2 linked regions of the Homo sapiens genome follow. The protein of the gene in region 1 interacts with the protein of each later gene in a pairwise test. Each region holds a gene or a part of one and is shown on either strand. Other genes may lie near its edges. The genes, in order: SULT4A1 and MAPK8IP3.

What was found.
Region 2: the proteins of SULT4A1 (region 1) and MAPK8IP3 interact in binary tests that used the Homo sapiens proteins (3 or more experiments, as listed by UniProt).

The regions. Positions count from the first base shown.
Region 1 is NC_000022.11:43,825,695-43,842,202, reverse strand, and holds part of SULT4A1 (sulfotransferase 4A1), read left to right. Parts: intron 1-270; coding exon 271-401; intron 402-2,177; coding exon 2,178-2,258; intron 2,259-3,209; coding exon 3,210-3,336; intron 3,337-6,167; coding exon of another isoform or gene 6,168-6,175; exon of another isoform or gene 6,176-7,107; intron 7,108-8,468; coding exon 8,469-8,563; intron 8,564-13,004; coding exon 13,005-13,143; intron 13,144-14,562; coding exon of another isoform or gene 14,563-14,603; exon of another isoform or gene 14,604-14,689; intron 14,690-16,089; coding exon 16,090-16,202; 3' UTR 16,203-16,508. UniProt on the Homo sapiens protein: Atypical sulfotransferase family member with very low affinity for 3'-phospho-5'-adenylyl sulfate (PAPS) and very low catalytic activity towards L-triiodothyronine, thyroxine, estrone, p-nitrophenol, 2-naphthylamine, and 2-beta-naphthol.
Region 2 is NC_000016.10:1,764,419-1,771,978, forward strand, and holds the end of MAPK8IP3 (C-Jun-amino-terminal kinase-interacting protein 3), read left to right. Parts: coding exon 1-41; intron 42-594; coding exon 595-760; intron 761-1,541; coding exon 1,542-1,724; intron 1,725-1,801; coding exon 1,802-1,991; intron 1,992-2,110; coding exon 2,111-2,230; intron 2,231-2,304; coding exon 2,305-2,385; intron 2,386-2,485; coding exon 2,486-2,553; intron 2,554-2,730; coding exon 2,731-2,879; intron 2,880-3,145; coding exon 3,146-3,317; intron 3,318-3,386; coding exon 3,387-3,500; intron 3,501-3,650; coding exon 3,651-3,689; intron 3,690-3,780; coding exon 3,781-3,960; intron 3,961-4,058; coding exon 4,059-4,208; intron 4,209-4,284; coding exon 4,285-4,406; 3' UTR 4,407-5,933; downstream 5,934-7,560. Other genes in the region: NME3 (nucleoside diphosphate kinase 3), read right to left, coding at 6,231-6,348, 6,471-6,575, 6,652-6,753, 6,851-6,992, 7,071-7,116.

The sequences.
Region 1 (16,508 bases):
ACAGGGGCTGGGTTCTGTTCTGTTCTGTTCTCCTAACAGCCCTGTGAAGCATCCTGGCCCCTCTGAGAATCAGAGCCGACTGGCCCATGACCCAGCACGGGGGATTCAGGCTGAGACCGTGCGGGGCGCGCTCCTCTTCCCAGACTCAGTCGCCCTGGGCCCCACCTGGGGCTCTTGAGCCCCTTCTTGGGCAGCAGGTGTTGACCCGAGCACAGGGCCGGGCGCGTGGGCCTCCTCTGAGCACCCCGCGCTGGGGCTTCTCCCCTCCAGGCACCAGCTTGCTGCAGGAGGTGGTCTACTTGGTGAGCCAGGGCGCTGACCCCGATGAGATCGGCTTGATGAACATCGACGAGCAGCTCCCGGTCCTGGAGTACCCACAGCCGGGCCTGGACATCATCAAGGTACCCAGGGCCAGCAGCACCTGTCCCAGCACCTCTTTAGGGTATTTCTACCGTTACACCCTGATGATTGACAGTTGCTCCTGGGGGCTCTGTGGATTAGGGGAGAGCAGATAGCCCCAGATAGCCAGGGGAGAAGCTGGCAGGCCTGAGCTGGCAGTGACCTGGAACCCGATGAGGGCGTGGGTGACACATCAGCGTCAGGGAGTCTGTGAAGTGGAAAGGAAGTCAATGCCTGGGGGGCACAGGGCTGAGGGGCCATTTGTGGGGAGCAGGCCCTGGGCCTCCCCCTCGCTTTCCCCTGGGGGCCCTCCTCTGAGGGAGCTGGGTAGGATGTGTTTGCATCAAATATTTGGTATCAAGAATGAATAAATGTTACCCCAGAGCCCTGCTCCCCGCACCCCTCAGACACACCCACAGGCACCCCCACCCCGTCCGCTGCACCTCTTTAGTTCCAGCCTCACACCTGAATGGGCCAGAACTGCAGCCTCCACCACACCTGTCCTCCTCCCTCTGGAGCAGCATTCCAAAACCCAGCTCTGAGAGTGCCATCCCACCCTGTGTCATGCTCTGAGAGTGCCATCCCTCCCCATGGCACAAGACCCCTGTGGCCCTCCAGGGCCCCTGTCTGCACCCCAGCCTCTCGGGCCTGAACGGCCATTTTGCTCTCCTTGTCCGTGCGGAACCATCTGGGAGTCGTTCCGTACTGCCGTGCCGAGGGCCACCGCGTTCAAGGCACTGCTCTTGGCATTGGGGGCAGCAGTGACTGACAGCATCAGGCCCGGCCTTTCAGCCCAGGAAGCCATAGTAGCTAGCCAGCGATCAGCGCTGGGAGGGGAGCAGATCAGGGGGGGACCAGCAGTCTCCTCTGGGGATGTCTGAGGCAGGTCCTGAAAGAGGAGAGGAGCAGAGGGACCCGTGAGCAAAGACCCCACGGCACGAGGGGCCTGGCCTTCCAGAGCAGTAGGCAAGCCTGGGGGTTGCAGGCAACGGTTCCGGGCTCTTTGGCTTCATGAGGGCTGGGCCCATTCCTAGGGCAGCTGGGAAGACGGGCTCTGAGCAGAGAGCACGGTGCTGGCTGCTTTACAGGACAACCCTGGCTGCTGATGGGAAGGCCCGAGGGGCAGGTGGAAGCAGTGAGCGCATCAGGCCAGGTTGCTGTGCGGTCCAGCGCCAGCCTGGCAGCACCCACTGGGGCTGGTGCCTCCTGCTGCCTCTGCTGCCCTCCGACGCCACTCCAAGCCGGGGCAGTAGCTCCCAGGCCCCCTGAGCAGATCCTGTGGCTGTGGCTATGATGGGTGGACTCCCCAGGCCAAAGTCAAGGACCCTTGTCTCTACCGCCAGGGTCCAGCCGGGGTGTGCTCATGTCTCCAATCTTTGTCTCAGGTGACAAGGGAGGCTGTCCTGGCTGGGTCCGAGACTCTCTCCAGGACAGGAGACCAGGGCATGACAGCCTTGCCTCCTCTTGCTCTGACCCCTCCCTACTCCTGGCCTCACCTTTCCCTCTGACCCCTACCGTTCTCCCCTGGCCCCCACCCCTTCCCTCGTCCTCTGGTCCCCCTGCTCCTGGCCTTACCCCTCCCTCTGGCCTCACCCCTCCCTCTTACCTGACGCTCTCCTGACCCCTCCGCTACCCTAGACCCGCCGTTCCCTCTGATAACTCCACTTCCCCTGAACCCCACCCCTTCCTTCCTCCTCTGGCCCCCTTCCCCTTGGCCCCACTCCTCCCCTTGGTCTCACCCTTTCCTCTGACCTGCCTCTCCCTCTGACTCCACGCAGGAACTGACCTCTCCCCGCCTCATCAAGAGCCACCTGCCCTACCGCTTTCTGCCCTCTGACCTCCACAATGGAGACTCCAAGGTAAGCTGGCACCTCCTCTGCCTCCCGAGATGAGTCCCCACCAAGAGGAGCCCAAGGTCCCTGTGCAATACACATGCAGGTCCCTGGCACTTACCTGGCCTTGGGGGCTGTCTTCCCAAGGAGCCCACACGTGAAGATCCCTTCTGAGGTGGTCTTGGGTCATGCGTCTCTAGCATTTTACCCAAGTTTTTAACGACGGGTTGGTTTTTACCTCACAGTCAAACATGGCTGTGGCCAGCCTAATCCAAAGCAGGCCAGCAGGCGTGTACCTGCTTTGGGCCGAATTCTCTTTGTTTTTCAATTGCATCAAATGCCAAGGCCTGTGGGGTTTTTTTGTTTGTTTGTTTTTTTGTTTTTGAGACGGAGTCTTAGTCTGTCGCCCAGGCTGGAGTGCAGTGGCATGGCTCACTGCAACCTCTGCCTCCCTGGTTCAAGCGATTCTCCTGCCTCAGCCTCCTGAGTAGCTGGGACTACAGGCATGTGCCACCACACCCGGCTAATTTTTCTATTTTTGGTAGAGACAGGGTTTCACCATGTTGGTCAGGCTGGTCTTGAACTACTGACCTCAGGTGATCTACCCACCTCGGCCTCCCAAAGTGCTGGGATTACAGATGCGAGCCACCGCACCCGGCCAGAGGCCTGTGTTCTTACCACCAGGATCAGGGTTGTAAGTTTTTTGTCTTCTGCAGATTTTAAAGTAGTTCTAGAGGACAGAAATAAAATGCTCAAGTAATTTTCCTGGCCAGCTCTACTGCATGGACAGGGCACCTTTCTGCTGAAACAGCGAAGCAGCAGCACCCAGCAGCCGTGCACATGGGCCCCAGCTGGACGCTGGAAGCAGGTGTTGGTTTGTGAGGTGCACCAGCAGGTTCAGGGAGGCTGGCCTGTGTCGGGGCAGCCCTGCCTGGGAGGGAAGGAGACACGGACTCATCCTGCTCCTGTCACCCACAGGTCATCTATATGGCTCGCAACCCCAAGGATCTGGTGGTGTCTTATTATCAGTTCCACCGCTCTCTGCGGACCATGAGCTACCGAGGCACCTTTCAAGAATTCTGCCGGAGGTTTATGAATGATAAGCGTGAGTGTTGCAGCCTGGCGGCATGTTAGAACCGGAGCCGTCTGTTGTCGTGGACGGCCTGGCAGGTGCTGGGTGCTTCCCCGACACGGTCTCCAGTTCTGACAGTGACCATGTAGGTCAGGCCCGCGGTCACTTTACAGATGAAGACACTGAGGCCGAGGGTCGTGAACGTGGCCGAGATCCTAGAGCTGGTGTGTGTCAGAGCAGGTCCATCTGAACCCAGAGCCCTTCTCTTCTACCACACTGTCGGGGTGTCTGAGAAGTTCCCCAGTTAAAACATCCATCCTTCCTACCTGGGTTTCAAACAGGGAGAGAATGAAAACAGTAAAAATGGAGGCCCAGGTATCACTACTGTTAGTGATAGGGCCTGGAGTGGAGACTGGAGCTAAGTGTGACAGGCATGGGCCTTTGGCTGAACCTCAGGCACAGGCAAGCTACTGGGGCAGGGCACACTTGTGCCCGCTGGGAGGAGGACAGCCGGGCTGAACCTCAGGCACAGGCAAGCCTCCGGGGCAGGGCACACTTGTGCCCGCAGGGAGGAGGACAGCCGGGCCGAGAGTGCCATGTGCTGTTCTCTGGCTTCCATTCCAGCCCCTGAGGAGGAGCGAGGCTGGGTTCCACCCTGCCCTGCTCTCAAGGAAGGCGGGACCAGGCCTCTTGTCTTGGTCCCACTCGCTCCCAGTCCTTACTCTCTTGCCCCGCTGGGCCACCTTTCCCTTGGGAGTGGTGGCAGAGCTCCTCAGTGCAGTTCTGTTCCTGCCTTCCTGAGGGGGCTCCCCATGGCCAGCCATGGCTTTGGGAGGTCCTGGGACAGAAAGTGGGCAGTGTAGGGTGTGCAGGCAGAGGAGCTTTGAAATGTGTCATAATAGCTGCACTTTAATTAAATCTACACTGAGACTCTTCCCTACCCAAGGCTGAAAATACACTTTCTGTTTTATTTCCCAACGGAAGTGATGCTGAGCCGCATTGTTCAGTGTGGCTTATCGGGGGCTCTGCAGGGGGCTTATGTGACAGGATGAGGATGAATCATGTAGCAGAGATCCTGGAACGTAATGCCCTCGAGTTTAAGTGGAACTTAGGGCAGTGGACCTAGAGCTGCTGCCAGGCCTGGTTGAAGGGGACCTCTTGGCGGGGCGGTGCAGGGCGCCACAGGCTGACTCTGTTGCTTGCAGTTTGAAAACCCACGAGGGCCTCAAAGCCCTGGGATGATTCTGTTTCCTGCCCTTGAGCCTCTGCTTCCACTGTGCCTGCTGAGAAGTGGCCCTGCCTGCAAGGGGTAGGAGGCCCCAGACCGCACCCTGAAGCCCCCTGAGCCTGCTCTGGGCCTTCTGTCCAGCCCCTCTTCCCATGGCCTCTTGGCCCTGGCACCTGCTCTTGTGGTCCACCAGGCATTTGGAGCAACCCACTCATGGACTTCTGAAGCTGTTTCCTAGGGTCCAGCATGGACTCTGCTCTCTGCAGAGCATGGGGACAACACCCACATTCAGACCAGCACGTGGAAGAGGCTACAAACATCTTGCTCAGGCCAGAGCAGTTAACAGTTCTCTTAATATAGGCCTCTCCATGTCACCACAGTCACAGACCCATCCTCCACTGAGTGCAAGGTCCCACACACGTGCCTTGGTCCCAGCAAACCCTGTAGACAGGCCCACTCAGCACCCCTGTGCTCCGTCCTTCATTGTCACTCAGTGAGCACGCACATACTGAGGACCGCTGGACCCCCTCCCTGATGTCCTGAAGACGGTGGAAACTAATATGCACGGGAACCCTGAAAGCACACCATGTCCAGACAGGCCAGGATCAGAGGCCACAGCACAGGGCAACAGCAGGAGGGTCCTGCATAAACAACCACGCGTGAGCCTGGTGACCAGCTCTGCGAGGCTGGAGGGCAAAGGGCCCTGGAGGCAGGTGACACCTGCAGTGTGAGGATGCCCCGTGACAGGCTTCCTGTGACACCTGCAGTGTGCGGACGCTGTGTAGACAGGCTCCCTGTGGCACCTGCAGTGTCAGGACGCTGTGTAGGCTGGGTCCCTGTGGCACCTGCAGTGTGAGGACGCTGTGTAGACTGGGTCCCTGTGGCACCTGCAGTGTGAGGACGCTGTGTAGACAGGGTCCCTGTGGCACCTGCAGTGTGAGGATGCTGTGTAGACTGGGTCCCTGTGGAGCCTTCAGTTTGATGTGTAGACAGGCTCCCTGTGGCACCTGCAGTTGGAGGACGCTGTGTAGACAGGATCCCTGTGGCACCTGCAGTGTGAGGACGCTGTGTAGACAGGGTCCCTGTGGCACCTGCAGTTGGAGGACGCTGTGTAGACAGGATCCCTGTGGCACCTGCAGTGTGAGGACGCTGTGTAGGCAGGCTCCCTGTGGCACCTGCAGTTGGAGGACGCTGTGTAGACAGGATCCCTGTGGCACCTGCAGTGTGAGGACGCTGTGTAGACAGGGTCCCTGTGGCACCTGCAGTGTGAGGACGCTGTGTAGACAGGGTCCCTGTGGCACCTGCAGTTGGAGGACGCTGTGTAGACAGGGTCCCTGTGGCACCTGCAGTGTGAGGACGCTGTGTAGACAGGGTCCCTGTGGCACCTGCAGTTGGAGGACGCTGTGTAGACAGGCTCCCTGTGGCACCTGCAGTTGGAGGACGCTGTGTGGACAGGGTCCCTGTGGCACCTGCAGTCGGAGGACGCTGTGTAGACAGGGTCCCTGTGGCACCTGCAGTGTGAGGACGCTGTGTAGACAGGCTCCCTGTGGCACCCGCAGTGTGGCATGCAGCCTCTGTGACCGTGTCTTCTCTGGGGTGGACAGTGAGGTTTTGTTATTCTTCCTTCATATTCCAGATGGATGATTCCCTTCCCTTTCACAGAGCAGCGTGGAGCCCAGGGAAAAGCGTGGAGGGGCCCGGCGTCCTCGCCTCCTCTCAGGCATTCCGGTGGGAAGGCTCTCCACCCAGCAACCTACAGCTCATTCCCGTCCCCCCTCCTGCTGTGGGGACTCCGTGCACTTGCTCCTCACATCAGCGCAGGACCACACGTGCAGTCCTTCATGCCTTGCTCCTTCCAGAGTCCTCACACTATTTCCCCCTGCAACTCCATGTCACCGGGATGTCTGTTTTTGACATCTTGCTACATGCTTCCTTGGAATGAAGTGGGGTTTTTCTTTACCTTCCGTGTTCACAGGGCCATTTGACTCTTCCTTCTGCCCCAGGGACTCATCTGCTTGGACTTAGCTACCGATGATGGGCTGCAGTCGGGCCACTTGGGCTTCCCTGTCTGGGCCCCCATGATTATTGACCTGTTGGTGACTTGGGCAAGTCTCTTCCCTTCTCTGGGACTCAGCTTTATTCTGCAGAAATTGGAGGTTTTGGTGGGATGTGGGTGCAGCTCCTCCGTGGGAATCCTGCCGGGTGGCAGGGCCCAGCAGAGGAGTCTCTACAGCCAGCGCTCCTCATCCAGCTGGGCTGCTTCCTGCTGCTTAGCACCGCCAGCCCCCGACTGCCCAGTGATCCTTAACTGACGCCTTGCTCTCTGTCGTATGGAGGTCCCCGTGGAAGAAACCGTCACAGTGGTGGGCACGGCATGTGGCAGGCAGGGGAGGATCCATAGCTTTTATAAAGAACACTGCAAAGCAGGCTGGAGACTCCATGAGTTGGTCCCTGCCTGTGTGCCCCACCCCACACCAAGGGCTCTGAGGCAGCGCAGGCCACGCAGGAAGCTCAGGGCTGCGGTGGGGGCGCGGGAAGCTCAGGGCTGCGGTGTGGCTGCGGGAAGCTCAGGGCAGCGGTGGGGGCGCGGGAAGCTCAGGGCCGCGGTGGGGGCGCGGGAAGCACAGGGACGCGGTGGGGGCGCGGGAAGCACAGGGCCGCGGTGTGGGTGCGGGAAGCTCAGGGCAGCGGTGGGGGCGCGGGAAGCTCAGGGCCGCGGTGGGGGCGCGGGAAGCTCAGGGCCGCGGTGGGGGCGCGGGAAGCACAGGGACGCGGTGGGGGCGCGGGAAGCACAGGGACGCGGTGGGGGCGCGGGAAGCTCAGGGCCGCGGTGTGGCTGCGGGAAGCTCAGGGCAGCGGTGGGGGCGCGGGAAGCTCAGGGCCGCGGTGGGGGCGCGGGAAGCACAGGGACGCGGTGGGGGCGCGGGAAGCACAGGGACGCGGTGTGGGTGCGGGAAGCTCAGGGCAGCGGTGGGGGCGCGGGAAGCTCAGGGCCGCGGTGGGGGCGCGGGAAGCTCAGGGCCGCGGTGGGGGCGCGGGAAGCACAGGGACGCGGTGGGGGCGCGGGAAGCACAGGGACGCGGTGGGGGCGCGGGAAGCTCAGGGCCGCGGTGTGGCTGCGGGAAGCTCAGGGCAGCGGTGGGGGCGCGGGAAGCTCAGGGCCGCGGTGGGGGCGTGGGAAGCTCAGGGCCGCGGTGGGGGCGCGGGAAGCACAGGGACGCGGTGGGGGCGCGGGAAGCACAGGGCCGCGGTGTGGCTGCGGGAAGCTCAGGGCAGCGGTGGGGGCGCGGGAAGCTCAGGGCCGCGGTGGGGGCGCGGGAAGCTCAGGGCCGCGGTGGGGGCGCGGGAAGCACAGGGACGCGGTGGGGGCGCGGGAAGCACAGGGCCGCGGTGTGGGTGCGGGAGTGCCGGCCTCTTGGAGGTCAGGACAGGACTCCCTGCCCGTCTTCAGCTTTCAGGTCCCATGGAGAGTTCCTCGATTTACTGAGGCTACTGCCTGTCGCCCTCTTGCCCAGCAGGGCCCCGTGTTCTGGATCTGTCCTACAGCTTCCTATACCCCACCCTGTCCCCACTAGCAACCCTAGCGGCCCCTGTCCCAGTTCTTCTGGGCTTTGTTCCAGGGCTTCCTGGTGACCACTTGTTAAGCGGATAAAGTAACGGGCACTGTTGCGGTCCACTGCCAGGTACCACAGGGACCACCTTCTCAGAGGCTGTCACCCCCATGGTCAGGCCTTCAAGGCGTGCCGAAGGCGGGAGGGCTGGGATGGCTCAAGACGTGAGTGCCTCGGGGGCCTTTGCCAGACTTGTCCGCAGGGATCACGATGTCCTCATCACGGCTGCTGGGTGGCAGGAGGGCAGCCCTGTGGGGTGGGGATGGCCCCATGTGTGCGCTTCTCCTGCCCAGCCGTGTGGCTCACCCTGTCCCCTGTCTCCGCAGTGGGCTACGGCTCCTGGTTTGAGCACGTGCAGGAGTTCTGGGAGCACCGCATGGACTCGAACGTGCTTTTTCTCAAGTATGAAGACATGCATCGGGTGAGTGCTGCCGGAGCAGCTGTCCTCCGGGTGCCCTGGCCCTCGGCCTGGCAGCTCCTGACGCAGGAGCCCTTTACAGTGGGCGTGTGGGAGGAGGAGGAGGGGTCTGAGGAGGGACAGAGGAGGGGGCGGGACAGTCTGTGGGCTGGAAGGGGGCTTGGGGGTGTGGGGAGCAGCCTGTCAAAGCCTGAGGTGTGGCAGGGCAGCCATGCCGTGCGAGGCTGAGGGACCCAGGAAGGCGGGTGTGGGGAGGGGACTGGGGCTTGGCTTATCAGGGGGCCTTTGGAGTGCTTTACAGTGGTGGTTGATGGGACGTTGAGGAGAGGCCACTGTCTGCAGTGAGACACGAGGCAGCTGGTAGCTTGGGGAGCCTGGGTCACCACAGAAGAGACTGAGCATTTTCTAGGTGTTGGGAGAAAGCAGGAGCTGGGGGAGGGGTTGAAAAGAACTAATGGGACAAGGTCTTAGTCCAGGCAGAGGCAGGGCTTGGGGCTGGAGCCTAGGCAGAGGGGCTTCTGGTGGCAGGGGCAGGACAGGCAGGAGACACCTGTGGCCTGGCCCATGGGAAAGAGGAGAGACGATGGGGTGCAGATGTGGACTGTGAGGTTGCTCCTGTGGGGCAGAGGCCTGAGTGCCAGCTGGAAACCATGTCGATGTAGGGGACAGACAAGGCCAGCCTGTGGGGCTGCTAGTGTCAGTGGCTGACAGACAAGCAGGTTTAGGTTGAGTAGCAGTGGGTGGGAGCTGGGATGGGGAGGAGGTCTGCTGGGAGACAGACAGGAGAGCTGGGTGCTGGGGAGGGTGAGCCAGTGCTGGAGTTGGAGGTCAGAAAGCCCAGGGGTAGGAAGGCCAGCCTTGTACTTTCCCCACACCTGCAGGAAGACGCCAGACCTGGCTGTGAACAGAGCCACACGAGGTCCCCTATGGCGCTGGGGTGGGGGCTGTGCCTTGTGGCCCTGGGGTGGTGGGGTGTTTGTTGTGGCCCTGGGGCGGGTGGTGTGTGCACTGTGATCCTGGGGTGGGGGTGTGTGCGTTGTAGCCCCGGGGTGGGGGTGTGTGCACTGTGATCCTGGGGTGTGGGGGTGTGCCTTGCGTTTCCTGCAGTTGTTCTTGGGTTGCTTTGTGCTCACACACTGGGGCCTGTGGTCAGCACGGGCCAGGTCGGCCTTCGCAGGAGCGTGGCCTTTCGGGGCTTGCTCGATGTGCAGGAAGGACCCCGTCTGCAGGTCTGCTGCCGGCTGGCGCATGCTGTCGGTTCCCCACATGGGTCCTCACCATGGCTCTGTGTTATGGTGAGGAAAGAGCAAGGTCATGTGGCGGTCTAAGGTCACACGCGCCATGGAGCCGACTGCTGGGTGAGCCTGTCTGACTCTACATGGGCCTCCACCTGTCTGCCTCTTGTCCACACAACTTGACACAGAGCCACATTTAGGGTCCCTGCTCACGCCCAGAGGACGGTGTGGTAGAGATGAAGGTGTAGCCCAAGCAGGTTGGAACCCTGGTCCTGCCGCTGACCTCTGTGAAGCCGTCGGCCGTGGTTTCCTGTGGTGCTGGGGAACAACGTGGGCTCTGGATGCTGGCTGCTCAGGCCAAAGTCCTGACCACCCCAAGCCTCTGTAAAGTGGGGAGGTGACAGCACCCCCGTCACTGTGTGGCTGGGAGGACTGTGTGAGCATCACCTACGTGCAGGCCTGGCACGGGCCCGCCTGGTGTGTACCTTTTTGTGGTGGTGTCATGCACAGTGAGGTGTACTTGGCACACACGTGGGGCTTGACAGCCTTTTACCTGTCACATCTGGGCAGCCACCTTCCAGATCCAGAACATTCCAGCTTCTTGCAGTTGATACCCCTGCTTCCCAGAGGCCACCGCGGTTTCATCTCCCTCACCGGAGCTTGGCGTTGCCTCTTTGGAACCTGTCAGGTGTGGAACTCGCATGGGTTTTGCTGTCTGGCTTCTGCGCAGATGGCGAGGCTCCTCCACCTGCGTGGCGCGGAGCTCTGTTCTTTCCTGTGCTGTGGTCGGTGCTCCGTTGCAGCACGAATGTGCCACCGCTTCATCCATCCAGTGTTGCCGGGCGTGGAGGCCATTTTCACTTTGGGGTGGTCATGAATAAAGCCTCCGTGGACGTTCTGGAGTCTTGGTGGACGTCAGCACTTGTGCTTATCGGGCCCATACCCAGGAGTGGAATTTCTGGGGTCCTGGGTGTGCATTTGTCAGCTGGTCACTATTTTGCCACCAATGACATAGCATTGAACATGCACTGCCCAGGGCCACTGAGGCCCCAACATGAGAAGGTGAATAGGGAAAGCGCCCAGCTGGCCAGCTGCCCACACATCTCGGGGGCAGCTGCCGGGTCAGCAGTTTCTTCCTGGAGCTTCAGTTTCCTCAGCAATGATGGACTGAAGTTTTAAGGTCCAAACACACACTTTACTCCAAGCCCTTAAAGGGAAGTTCATCCTTCTCTGCCTTCCAGGCTCCCCAGTGAAAGTGGTCAGACCTGTTGCTTTCAGTCCGTCAGGGTCAAGGCCACCAGCCCTGCCTGGAACTTTAAGAGCTGCCGGGGTCAGTGCTGGGACTTCATTTTCTATCAAAGCCGGTCTGTGACTCAATGGCATCCCTGGGACAGTCAGCGTTTCGCCTTCTAATTGGCATGGGTTTATTCTTTTTTTAGGAACCTCAGTAATGGCTTGTTTTAATGGAGGTCAAGTCACATTTTTAGGAATTAATATTGTTTACATCTTACTCCAGAAAACTAGCCCCGAGTGAGCATGGTTGTCTCCAGGACTGTGGTGTGGGTCCATGTGTTCTCACCCTGGGGTTGAGAGGGAATGCTTCCTGCCAGAGCGCTCACTGCCTGCGCTCCACTGCACCGCAATTACAGTGGCCCTTTCCCACGAGCCGGGCACTGTGCCAGGCACCCCGGGTATATTCCCACTTCATCCTCAGTCATCTTGCAGGGTGTTCTCACCAGTCACGGGGTGCCCTGACTGCAACCGTGTGGCCAGCTAGTACCTGCCCATGTGGAGGCACGACCCCAACACGCTGGCTCCGTGCCGTGGTGTGCGGCCTCTTGCTGCGGCCCTGTCGCTAGTTCCAGATGGGGAATGTGTGGCTCAGAGAGGTGAAGTGGGCCGTTCCTGCCAGCTGACCTGGGCGTTCTGCCTGATCCCTGCTGGGTTTCATAACCAGCAAGTGTCCTGTGACATGTTGCTGGATGTAGCCTGGCAGAAACGCCCCTTCCTCTGAGATGGACGTCACGCCGCAGTGAGCTGCCCCACGAGGATTCTGCTGAACGCTCCAGCAGGCTGACTTTAAGCCAGCTGTGTCCTTCTTGCGGCATCTCTTCTGAGAGCCAGGTTTCTTCACTCTTTCTCCATTGCTACCCTTTTTCTTTGAAATGGAGTTCTTGGTGGCAGGGCAAGGGAAAGGGAGCTCTGTATTCCTTGGCTCATTCTCTAATAACTGTTCCTCTGACTCTTGAGTCAAGCCCTGCGCCCGGGATGCACCACACCCCTGCCTGTGGAAGGCAGTGCGAGGCCAGAATCAGACCTGCAACCGCTGCTGCAGGAGTCAGCGCACTGTGGGGACCCAGGGAGGAGCTGGCGCCCACACCAGCTGACTCCCACACCAGCGGTCAGAGAACATTGTCTTTTAAGGTTTCCGAAGTGCTGCAATAAAGAAATTAAATCATCTTTTCACTGTAGGACTTTTTAGAGGCTTTAATGCGGGAATTTGCTTTACAAACCTTCCAGAGAGGAAACAGCCTCCAGCATCTTCCTAATGGGACCAAGGCACCTCTAGGTGACAGCTCAGGGCTGTGATTGAGAAGACGAGGAGCCTCATCTCTTGGGGAGAAAGTGGCAGGGGTGGGGGGCTGGGGAATGGCCCCCTCAAGACGGTTAGCCACATCAGTGACATTCCGCTGTCAGGCGTGGTAAAATAATGGGGCAGGGTATGGCAGGCATGACGGAATCTTGCCTGTGATGAAGCGGGCTCCCTGCCCAGTGCAGGGCCATCTGGAGACCAGAGGGGCCTCCCTGCGCTCCCAAGGGCCAGCCCAGACGCCAGCTGACAGGCAGCAGGAAGGGAAAGAGGAGCCCATTAGGTCTTGCTCCTCACAAGAACCATGTTCTGAAATATGTTTTTTACTTCTTGCTCCTGTTAAAACTTAACCACACCTCTATTAAGACCTCATGTCTGCAACCCAATTCCCTGGAGGACCAGGGTTTGAATTCAAGATCTCCACGTGAGAGCTGAGCACACTTGGGCGATTTCTTAACCTCTTAGTGTTATTTCTGGACAAGGCTGATGTCAGCCTTGTGAGCATTAAGTAAGGAAGGCCGTGTGTAAAAAGTCCTCAGCGTGTGCCCAGCCTGGGGTCGTGTCCAGTAAAAGGCCCCGCCTCTGATGGGCTGCTCTGCTCTCTGCACTTGTCTTCCAGGACCTGGTGACGATGGTGGAGCAGCTGGCCAGATTCCTGGGGGTGTCCTGTGACAAGGCCCAGCTGGAAGCCCTGACGGAGCACTGCCACCAGCTGGTGGACCAGTGCTGCAACGCTGAGGCCCTGCCCGTGGGCCGGGGTACGTGCCCCACCCTGCCTCCCGCCCAGGCACTCCCCACCCCAGCCAGGCTGCTTTCTCTGCCTGCTTAGGGAGCCGAGTCCGGTCCCTGTTGCCCTCCCTGCTCTCCTTTTACAGCAGTCTGTAGCTGGCCCATGGCCTGTGCTCTGTTAGCTGGTGCCCATGGATGGCACAGTGCTCATGGAGTGACGGAGTACCCTGCCCGCTGGTGTTTGCATTGCCTCCAAGCAAACAGTGTTTTGACTTGAAAAAGTGCATTTCAGGCTTTGTGGGCGGGATGTTTCTCAGCAGGGAGTCTACTCAGATGGCCTGAAATCAAACGCCCCACAGAGCAGATCCAGGGACTGGGTTTGGTGCTATGACATGTCAAAGCGCAAAGCATGCTGATGGGTTTCTCAGTCTCTAACTGACTTGTGGGAGAGTTAAATGAAGTGGGCGGGAAGTTAGGAGACACCGTTTTTCTTCCTTCACTGAGTGGACGCTGACTGAGCATCTTCTGGGTGCAGGCAGCACAGGTGAGGCCTAGCCCCACTTCGGGGTGGTGAACTTAAGCAGACAGTACCAAGCTAAGCCGCTGCACAGAGGGAGGCCAGTTCCTGCTCTTGGCGGCAAGTGACAGTGGGCATGAGGCAGCTGGAGATGGGGACAGTGTTCCTGACAGGAATCCTCCCCAGATCCACCTGGGTTGCTCCCCCTGTCCTTAAGGGTGTGTGGCATTTGGCTTTGATGATGGAGAGCCCAGGCTCTAAAACCCCTGAATCCCAGGGTGCTGGCCTTGGCCATAGGAGGCCCCCTGTTGGTAAGTATGAACCTGATGGACACTTGGTGTGTTGGGCACTTCCTGGGTTGAGAATGTTTGCAGGGAGGGCCCAGAAACGTGGATGGCTCTGTTCAGCAGCAGCCCCACAAGATGGAGTGGGAGATGCCTGGGGCGGATGAGAGACGCGCTGGGCTCCAGCTCAGCTCTGCTGCCCTCTGGGAACGCAACATAGGTCAGGCCTTCAGCTTCTGCGGCTTTTTGTTCTTCTCTGAAAAGGGGCTGATCACGGCTAAGGGCGGTTTGAAGGTCAAGTGCAAAGTGCCGTCTCTTATAAAGGCAGAGCAGTGGACTCCTCAGGAGGAAGTGAACTGAACCACAGTCCCTCTCGACTTCTTTCCTGGCTGCATTTTCATAAATATTTGTTATTTAACATTTATTTGCTCTTTTTTAGTTTTGCTTTTGCTGTGTTTTGTTATCCTTGGATGTGACCTTCTCCAAAATACCCCTTTTGGTTCACGTGTGTGTGTGTGTGTGTGTGTGTGTGGTGAAGCAGCGTCGAGAACATACTGTGTGCCCATATGCTCCTTCCCTTGGGTTTGCTTTATCATGGTTTACCTTGGTTTTGCTTTATTTCAGTTCTTTGATTTGTTTTCTTTTAGCACATTGCGTCTTTGCTCGGAAGATCTTCTTGAGTTGGTGAGAATGCAGGGCCGAGTAGCCAGCTGCATTGCTTAGATTTGATTCATGTCACAGCATAAATTGTCTTGATTCCAAATCCTAAACCAGGTGGGTGACTCCTCTGACGAGCTCTCAGCTGTCTCAGCTGAGAAAAATAATCATGGAAAAATAGTTTGGTTGCTCTAGCAGCTTCTAATTTTGCCCCTTAGGTATCATTAAAGGGTTACAAGAATAATTTTTCTTGTTTTTCTCTCCAACACTGATAATTTTTTGTTACCAAAGAGAAAGTCCGTGTTACGTTGGGTATTTTAGCTCAGCATTTGCAGGGTTGCAGTTTGAAAAACCTGAGGTCCTGCCTGGACAAGGACCGCTGTTAATAACGGAGCTAGTGAAGGACATTTGCTGGAGACAGAGCTCTGATCTCAGAGAGCTGACAATGGAAAGAATTCTAAACGAGCAGTTCTTCAAAAGCAGGGAGGCAGTACTCGGGTGATGTGCTCACAGCTCCCATAACTGGGAAGTTTGGAATCCCCGCCCCAGACATCTTCACGGTCACCGTTGCTATTGGACTAGACCAACCTAAGATTTTATATTAACAAAGACAATGGGAGCAACAACTTCTCTTGTCATGTTGAGCTGTCTTTCGTTTTTCCAAAGCCTTCATAAACCAGCGTAGACCGGTGCCTGCAGTTTATCCCACAGCTCAGCCCTCCCTTGTGGCTGCCAGGAAGAGGTCTGGGTTTCTGACTAAGCCTGGGCTAGAGCAGCTGGGGGCTGTGCCCAGACTCATTTTATTGTTGACTCAGGGAATTCTCACTGCAGTGCATGTTTTGCATCTAGTCTGTAAAGCTAGCTAATGCTGCGACTATTTGATTCACTTTAAATTCCTCCCCAGGGTTTGCCAGGGCAGGCTTCTTGAAATCTGCATCTTTGGCCCAGTCAGGAGGGCTTCCTACTTAGTGTAAAATTTTCTGCACTTTGAATGATTTTTTTTTCCTTTTCAAATTCTCCCGAAGCCAATGACGCCTTGGTGGCACTGTTGAGCTGTGAGTGGATAATGGCGTGGGAAGGGCCAGGGCTGCCTGTGATGCCCAGAGCAGTGCACTCCCGCGGCAGATCATACTCGCTCCTGGGATGTTTATTAAACACCTGCCACGTGCCAGGTGCCGTTCTAGGTGCTGGGGACCCAGCACTGAACAGGAGTAGAGTCTCCCTGGTGGGCCCCAGCGGGGGGTGTGGAATGGCACCAGGAGGTGGTTGTGGCTCACTGTGCCACAGCCTCAGAGGGAAGCTGGTTCAGGTCATGTTCTGCCGCATCCAGTAGTTTCACAAATGTTAGGGGACCACCTGGTCTGTAGCTCAGACGGCCCTTCCTGCCCCCATAGGCCAAGTTCAAAGGGATCCAGGAATAGATCTGGAATGTTCCAGATCCATTTCCAAGGCTTCCTTTAGTTCAGTAGCTGGCCGGACAGCAAGTGGCCCCAGCAGTTCTCTTGTTTGCGTTTCAGGAAGAGTTGGGCTGTGGAAGGACATCTTCACCGTCTCCATGAATGAGAAGTTTGACTTGGTGTATAAACAGAAGATGGGAAAGTGTGACCTCACGTTTGACTTTTATTTATAATAACAGAAACAACAACCTGCATGCTCACAATACCCAGACAGTCTACTAGCCAAAAGTCCTGTATGCATTCATTTATTCCTTGCTGGACAAACTCTGGAAGCAGCGTGTGAAACAGCGGGGGAAGGGAAGAGCGGCGTGAGCGGAGGGAGTGTGATGATTCCCAACCGAAAGCAGCTGTCTCGCCTTTAGAACGTGCAGCCTCTCCATGTCTGATTACAAACAGTCTCCACATTGCAGTTCCAATGGCCTGGACCGTAAGGATAAAGCCTGTAATATATGCAACTAGAATGTCTGCCTTTTCAACCC
Region 2 (7,560 bases), on another chromosome or scaffold:
GCGAGCCCAAGAGCGCCCACACGTCTCCCGAGAAGAAGAAGGTGAGCATGGCCGAGGCCACCGGGCACCCTCCCTGGCTTAGTCTCAGGACAGCTCAGCTGCAGAGCATGCTGGGAGTGAGACACAGGACAGCTGGGGACAGCACCCGGAAGCAGGGCAGCGCAGGGGCTCCTAGACTGCGGGAAGCAGTGTCTTCCCTCACCAGGACTGAGCCGCCTTCTGGGTTTTCAGTTTTCACCCCCCAGGTGGCCTGGAGTGGGCCTGCACTGGGCTGCAGGGGTCAGGCAGGCAGCAGGCACAGAGGAGCCCAGGAGCGGCAGAGCTTGCCTCCCAGTGGTGGGAGGCTTAGTTTTATGCCCAGCTTGGGCCTCTTGGAGCTCAGGGGCCTCTTCTGTGGAGGCGAAACCGTGTCTGTGAGTGCTTTAGAGTGCAGTCCTGAGTCCGCATTGTTCTGGTCCTGGGGGAGGACAGCCATGTCCCCTCAAGCTGTAGTCAAGGCTGGATCCTGACAGATTCTGGGAGCCCCATGGCCCTGTGCTGCCACCGGGTAGCCTCAAGCTCGGGCTCTGACCTTGATCCCGTGCCCTGAAACAGGCCAAGGAGCTCCCTGAAATGGACGCCACCTCCAGCCGGGTGTGGATCCTGACCAGCACCCTGACCACCAGCAAGGTGGTGATCATCGACGCCAACCAGCCGGGCACGGTGGTGGACCAGTTCACCGTCTGCAACGCGCACGTGCTGTGCATCTCCAGCATCCCCGGTGAGCAGCTGGAGTGGGCGTTTCCACTCGGGCGCCACTCCCTTTTACTAGCAAGCTAAGTAAAAGCCCTGCCACACAGCAGCTGCCTTCTCGGGGTGTCCTGTGGACACGGGAATGTGGCAGTGGACGGTGGGAGGGGCAGCACCCAGTCAAGTGAGGCCCTGGGCCCTGTTTCTGGGAGGAAGCTCGCGGCAGCCTCGGCCTCTTCTCCCTACCTACTCAGGACCCCACGCTTACCTGGTTAGAGGGTGACGGGTGGGCACGGCCTGCAGCTTGAAGCATCACTCGGAGACCACAGGAAAACATTTCCTCATGCTGAATGTGAAACCTCCAGTTGGGCCGAAGGGGCTATGGGGGTGTGGGTGAGGAGCTTCGTGTCACCCCTGTGGGCAGTAGCCTTGGTGATGTTCTGGGCCAGCCCCAACACTGGGAGGACGAAGGGGTGCCGAGGGCTCTGCCAGGTCTCTGGTGTGAAACCACAGGGCCGTCTGGGGTCCTGAGGGTCTGCCACAGGATCACAGGTTGTTTGCTCCCAGAACCAGAGTCTTACTACTCAGCTCCCCTTGGCCCAGGGGCCTACCCAACAGAGCAGGCTTGCTGGAGTCCCAGACCTCCAGGCAGAGGGTCGTGGGTGGGCTGTGGGTGGAGCATGTGTGGAAGCTGGGTCTGCTGGGAAAGTGGAAGGCCAGCCCCGGCTTCCTCTGCCCCTGTGTAAGTGCTGGGCACGCCCTTGCAGTAGTGGGTTCCCCCGCACAGGCTGACGGGCCGTCCCTCTCCCCAGCGGCCAGCGACAGCGACTACCCTCCCGGGGAGATGTTCCTGGACAGCGACGTGAACCCAGAGGACCCGGGCGCAGATGGCGTGCTGGCCGGTATCACCCTGGTGGGCTGTGCCACCCGCTGCAACGTGCCGCGGAGCAACTGCTCCTCCCGAGGGGACACCCCAGTGCTAGACAAGGGGCAGGGTGAGTCCTGGGCGAGTTTCCCCCATCCCCTCATTCCCACGTTTCTGCCCAGCCCAAGCTCACCTCTCCTAACACAGGGGAGGTGGCCACCATCGCCAACGGGAAGGTCAACCCGTCCCAGTCCACAGAGGAGGCCACAGAGGCCACGGAGGTGCCAGACCCTGGGCCCAGCGAGCCAGAGACAGCCACATTGCGGCCCGGGCCTCTCACAGAGCACGTCTTCACTGACCCAGCCCCGACCCCGTCCTCTGGCCCCCAGCCTGGCAGGTGAGCTCTTGGGCTGGGGCAGGAGCAGAGGGAAGGCTTGCAGAGGTGGGAAGGGCCTCGGGGTCTTGGGGCAGGTGCGTGCTCCGTGGCCCCCCCTGGAGCCACCGTTCTTCCTGCAGCGAGAACGGGCCAGAGCCTGACAGCAGCAGCACACGGCCAGAGCCAGAGCCCAGCGGGGACCCCACGGGAGCAGGCAGCAGTGCTGCACCCACCATGTGGCTGGGAGCCCAGAACGGCTGGTAGGAAGGGCCCGGGGCAAGGTGGAGGGAGGGTCCTGGGTGAGCCCCTCGCCCATCGCCGCTTCCTTCCCTAGGCTCTATGTGCACTCGGCTGTGGCCAACTGGAAGAAGTGCCTGCACTCCATCAAGCTGAAGGATTCTGTGCTGAGCCTGGTGTGGGTGACCCCAGACCGAGGGCCGGGCGGCGCGGGGGAACGGGGCGGAGGGGGCTGGCACAGCCTGGCCCAAACCAGGCTCACCGCATTCCTGTTTCAGGCATGTCAAAGGCCGTGTGCTGGTGGCTCTGGCGGACGGGACCCTGGCCATCTTCCACCGTGGTGAAGGTGGGGCCTGGCAGCACGGGGTGTGTGGGTGGCAGCTGATGGCCCTGGCATTGTTTAGCCAAGGGGCTCCCGGGGTTCCAGGCCTCTCCTTAGTCTGGCAGTGGGTGTCTCAACCCGATGCCCTGAGCAGAGGTGGGGCCTGGCCAGGCCTGAGCAGGTGTCCGGGGCTCCCTCCAGATGGCCAGTGGGATCTGAGCAACTATCACCTAATGGACCTGGGCCACCCGCACCACTCCATCCGCTGCATGGCTGTTGTGTACGACCGCGTGTGGTGTGGCTACAAGAACAAGGTGCACGTCATCCAGCCCAAGACCATGCAGATAGAGGCGAGTGCCGGCCAGGGCCCCGGGGAGGGGAAGAGGCTCCTGCTGGCCAGCAGCTCTCCCGCATCTTCCATACGGAAGTCCACGAGGCCCTACGTGGGTCCCATCTCCCCTGTACCACCTATGACTCAGGCTCGAACAGGCGCAAAGCAGGCGCTGGCTGGGAGGTCTGAGGGGACTGCAGGTGGCCCTGGAGCTGTGGCAGGTTTGGGGCTCCCCACTTCCTCTCCTCTCCCCAGCCCTGTTGATGGGCAGCCATGACTCCACAGAAGTCATTTGACGCCCACCCGCGGCGGGAGAGCCAGGTGCGGCAGCTGGCGTGGATCGGCGATGGCGTATGGGTGTCCATCCGCCTGGACTCCACCCTGAGGCTCTACCATGCACACACGCACCAGCATCTACAGGACGTGGACATTGAGCCCTACGTCAGCAAGATGCTAGGTGAGGGGCCACGCCAGATGGGGTGGTGGGGTGCTCAAGGCCAGCCACCCTGACCGCTCTCCCCCACAGGCACTGGCAAGCTGGGTTTCTCCTTCGTACGCATCACGGCCCTGCTTGTCGCGGGCAGCCGGCTCTGGGTGGGCACCGGCAACGGAGTGGTCATCTCCATCCCCCTGACAGAGAGTGAGTGGCCTGCACACCTGCAGGGGCAGTGGTGCTGCCAGAGGTGTACGTGGGTTCACGGGGTGGCTCTGCAGGGCCACCTTGGAGGGTGCCTTGCTGCCCCTACGCTGACCGCTCTCCTCTTCTCCCATGCTCCTCCCATGTCCCCAGCTGTGGTCCTGCACCGAGGCCAGCTCCTGGGGCTCCGAGGTAAGCCCAGCCACCTCGTGTCCCCTCACGGGAGCCTCTCCCACTCTCCACCTGTATGCGGGCTCAGCGCCTCTGGGTTCTCTCCCTGCAGCCAATAAGACATCCCCCACCTCTGGGGAGGGCGCCCGTCCCGGGGGCATCATCCACGTGTATGGCGATGACAGCAGTGACAGGGCGGCCAGCAGCTTCATCCCCTACTGCTCCATGGCCCAGGCCCAGCTATGCTTCCATGGGCACCGCGATGCCGTGAAGTTCTTTGTCTCGGTGCCAGGTGAGGCTGGGCCCCTCCTGCCATCCACATCCCCTGCATGCCAGTGGCCGCCGCCTCCCCCAGGAGGCCGCTGTCCTGAATCGCTTCTGCCATCCCAGGGAACGTGCTGGCCACCCTGAATGGGAGTGTGCTGGACAGCCCAGCCGAGGGCCCTGGGCCAGCTGCCCCTGCCTCGGAGGTCGAGGGCCAGAAGCTGCGGAACGTGCTGGTGCTGAGCGGCGGGGAGGGCTACATCGACTTCCGCATTGGTGAGCGGGGCCCAGGGACAGGGCTGAGGTTGGGCGCGGGGGGAGCCTGGCCGTCACTCTGCTGCTTTGCCCGCAGGAGACGGAGAGGACGACGAGACGGAGGAGGGCGCAGGGGACATGAGCCAGGTGAAGCCCGTGCTGTCCAAGGCAGAGCGCAGTCACATCATCGTGTGGCAGGTGTCCTACACCCCCGAGTGAAGCTGCTGCCCTGCCTGGCCCGACCTGTACATAGGACCCCCGACCACCTGACCCCCGCCCGGCCCGCGGGGTAGCCAGCCAGGCGCCGCCGCCCCTCTTCTAACCTCTCAACCTGCAGCTTTCACCTGAGTCTGGCCCCTCCAGCGGGCAGGGAGTGCGGGGATGCGGATCAGCTGGGAGGAGGAGGGGAGGGGAACTTCCACCCGAGGGGAAGATGCTCTCGGGACAGTTTCCCGGGCAGCTCCTGGCCAGCTTCCAGCCCAGAGTCCTCAAGTCCAGGGCACCTTGGGCCCAGCGCAGGCAGAATCCGAGGTGGTCCTGGCTCTACCCTGGGCCTCCTACTCCCCAGCACCCCTGGAGGAGGCAGGGGCTCCCCGCCGCCGAGGCTGCCTGCCCTGGGCCCACCTCTGCATGCTGCTCATGGGGCCACCCTGCCTCCTGGGCCCTCACTCTGCCTAGGGGAGCTGGGCCAGGCACTAGCCTTTGCCCAGGGAGGTGGGCCTCAGGCTGCCCAGGTGCCTGCACCCCAGCCGGCCTTCTCTGGGGCCTCCCCGTCGTCAAGCCTCTATCCTGTCTGTCCCCACCCCAGCTGTCCCCTGCCCAGGGAGCTGGCATAAAAGCACGAGGCCCGGCTCCCTGGGGCAGCTGCTTGAGAACAGAGACTGCTACCCCATCCTGCCCATGCAGGCAGGCTCTTGCCAGCCCCGTTCTGACCCGTGTCCCCCCAGGCTCTGCCTGGGCAGAAGACTCACCTTGGAGGAGTGGGCCCTGGAGTCCTGTCCCTCCCAGAAGCCCCCAGGGTGGGATTTCTCAGGCTGCCAGGGCAGGCCCAGGCCTCAGGAAGAAGGGGAGGCCCCTGGCCTCTCCGGGATCAGTCCTAGGACACAGGCTCAGCCTCAGGTTGATGGGGGATGATGTGCTCCCGGGGCCTGCCTCCTGCACGGGGCTCCACGGAGCCCAGCTCCCAGACACGCTACTAAGTGCCTAGGGTTGCCCGCTGTGGCCTGCTTCCAGGGAGCAACAGAGAGGCCACCAAGCAGAGGCCCGTGGGGCTGAGGATGGAGCCGCCCCCAGCCGACTCCAAGCCCGCAGAGGGCAGACGCCACCCTGGACTGCTCTCCCTGCCCAGCTGGGCCTCTCTGGCCTATTCCTACCTTCCAGGCCCACTGCACTCCTGTCTGGGAGGCCCTTATGAGGGCAGCCCAGCCCCCGCACCCACCCCCAACCAGAGAAGCACAGATCTTGGGGAGCTGCCCCACAAGCCCCGCTGGCCACCGAGGGCTGCAGCCGCTGCGCTGCCGGCTTCTCCCCACCACCCTGCCACCTCCACTGTGATGTATGTCCGCTCCCTCGTCTGTTCCCCCAGGATCTCGAAGTGACTCCGGGCTGAGCAGTGGGGCGGCTGGGGGAGGGGTGACGATTCTCCTCAGGCTTTGGCCCTGCAAGCAAACCCACATATCTGCTCTGTATGTAATAAATGTCTTAACGTCGTAGCTGCCTGTTCCTGGGCCCAAATCGAAACGAAAACGAGGACTTTATTATAAAAAAACGTTGGACCACGTTGGGCTGGGCACCAGGACAGTGTCCTGGCACGTTTCCAGGCGAGCCGCGCAGGCTCCTGGAGCAGCTCCTCGGGCAGGAAACCCTGTACGCCAGGGATTGGAGAGGCCTGCGCCACCCTCCATGCAACGTCCAGACAGGTGGATGTTCAGCAGCCCGTCCAAAGGGATGCTCCAAGCGCTGTGGGGTGGGGCCAGAAGCCCGCCCACCTGGGCCCTGGAGGAGGCTGGAGTGTGAGAGCCTCTGTGACGCGCATCTGCCGGGCTACTCATACAGCCAGTGCCCAGCGCTGTCCTCCCAGCAGAGGAGCTCGTCTGCGCGGAACCAGAGAGCGATCTCGCGGCGGGCACTCTCCACCGAGTCGCTGCCGTGAATCAGGTTCCTGCGCGGAAGAGGCGCGTGTGAGCGTGGGAAAGAGACCTCCGGCACGGGTACCACGCAGGCTGAACAGGGGGAGGCCGGACGGGGCTGGGACCGTCCCCGGGGCGGGCCTTACTTGCCAACCTCGATGCAGAAATCCCCGCGGATGGTGCCGGGCGGGGCGTCGGCCGGGTTCGTGGCTCCGATGAGCGCCCGCGAGGTGCGCACCACGTCCAGCCCCTGCCATACCTGTGCGGAGGAACGGGCGCGGTATCACGCGGGGGTGGGGGTCCCGGAGCCGCCCGCCCGCTTCCCGGATACTCACCATGGCCACCACCGGCCCGGAGGCCATATACTTGACAAGGCGGCCGTAGAACGGGCGTTCACGCAGCTCGGCGTAGTGCTCACGCAGCAGCTCCTCGGAGGCCTGCGGAAGGGTCAGGCCGCCTGCGCCCGCACCCGGCACCTAGGCGTCCCCAGGTCCCCGCTCCCCTTCCCCCCACACCGCGCCCCCGCTCGCTCACCGCGCCCCCACCTGCACCAGCTTCAGCGCCACCAACTTGAAGCCCTTCCTCTCGAAGCGCCGCACAATCTCGCCCACCAGCCGCCGCTGCACGCCGTCCGGCTTCACGGCCAGGAAGGTGCGTTCGTGTGCGCCGGTGCAGGCTGCGGGGCAGGCGGGGACGGGCCGTCAGGCCGGCCCAGCACCGGCCACCCGCCCCCGGCCCGCGCCGCGCGGCTCACCCGCGGGGAAGAGGTTAGCGAAGATGGTCAGCACCAGGCAGATCATGATGGCGGTGCGGGAGCGGGATCCGCGGGGCGGGGCGGTGGCGCCCGGGGCGGGGCCTGCGCTTAAAGAGGCCTGGTCGGGGCGCTGCGGCCTCCGCGGGGAGGCTGCTTCACTTGCACCCCGGAACCCGGCAGCCGTGGGGGGCCGGAGGGCAGCTGCGGAGGCCAAGTCTCCTCCAGCAGCTCGGACACTAACTGTATCCCCCACAACCCGCCCAGGTGGTTCCACCCACGCGGCGCCCTGCTCCGCACCGCCCGAACCCCGCCCCCCCCGCGCCCCCCCGGCCAGGGCCACGACCACAGCGTCAGCCCTTCTCTCCCCGGTCCTAAAGACAGAGCGCAAAGACACCACGACCCTGGGTACTTCTTTTCTCTTTATTCCCTTTCATAGCTTCTGCCGGGATCCAGGCAGAGAGAGCACTAATGGGGGAAAGGGAGCGAGCGC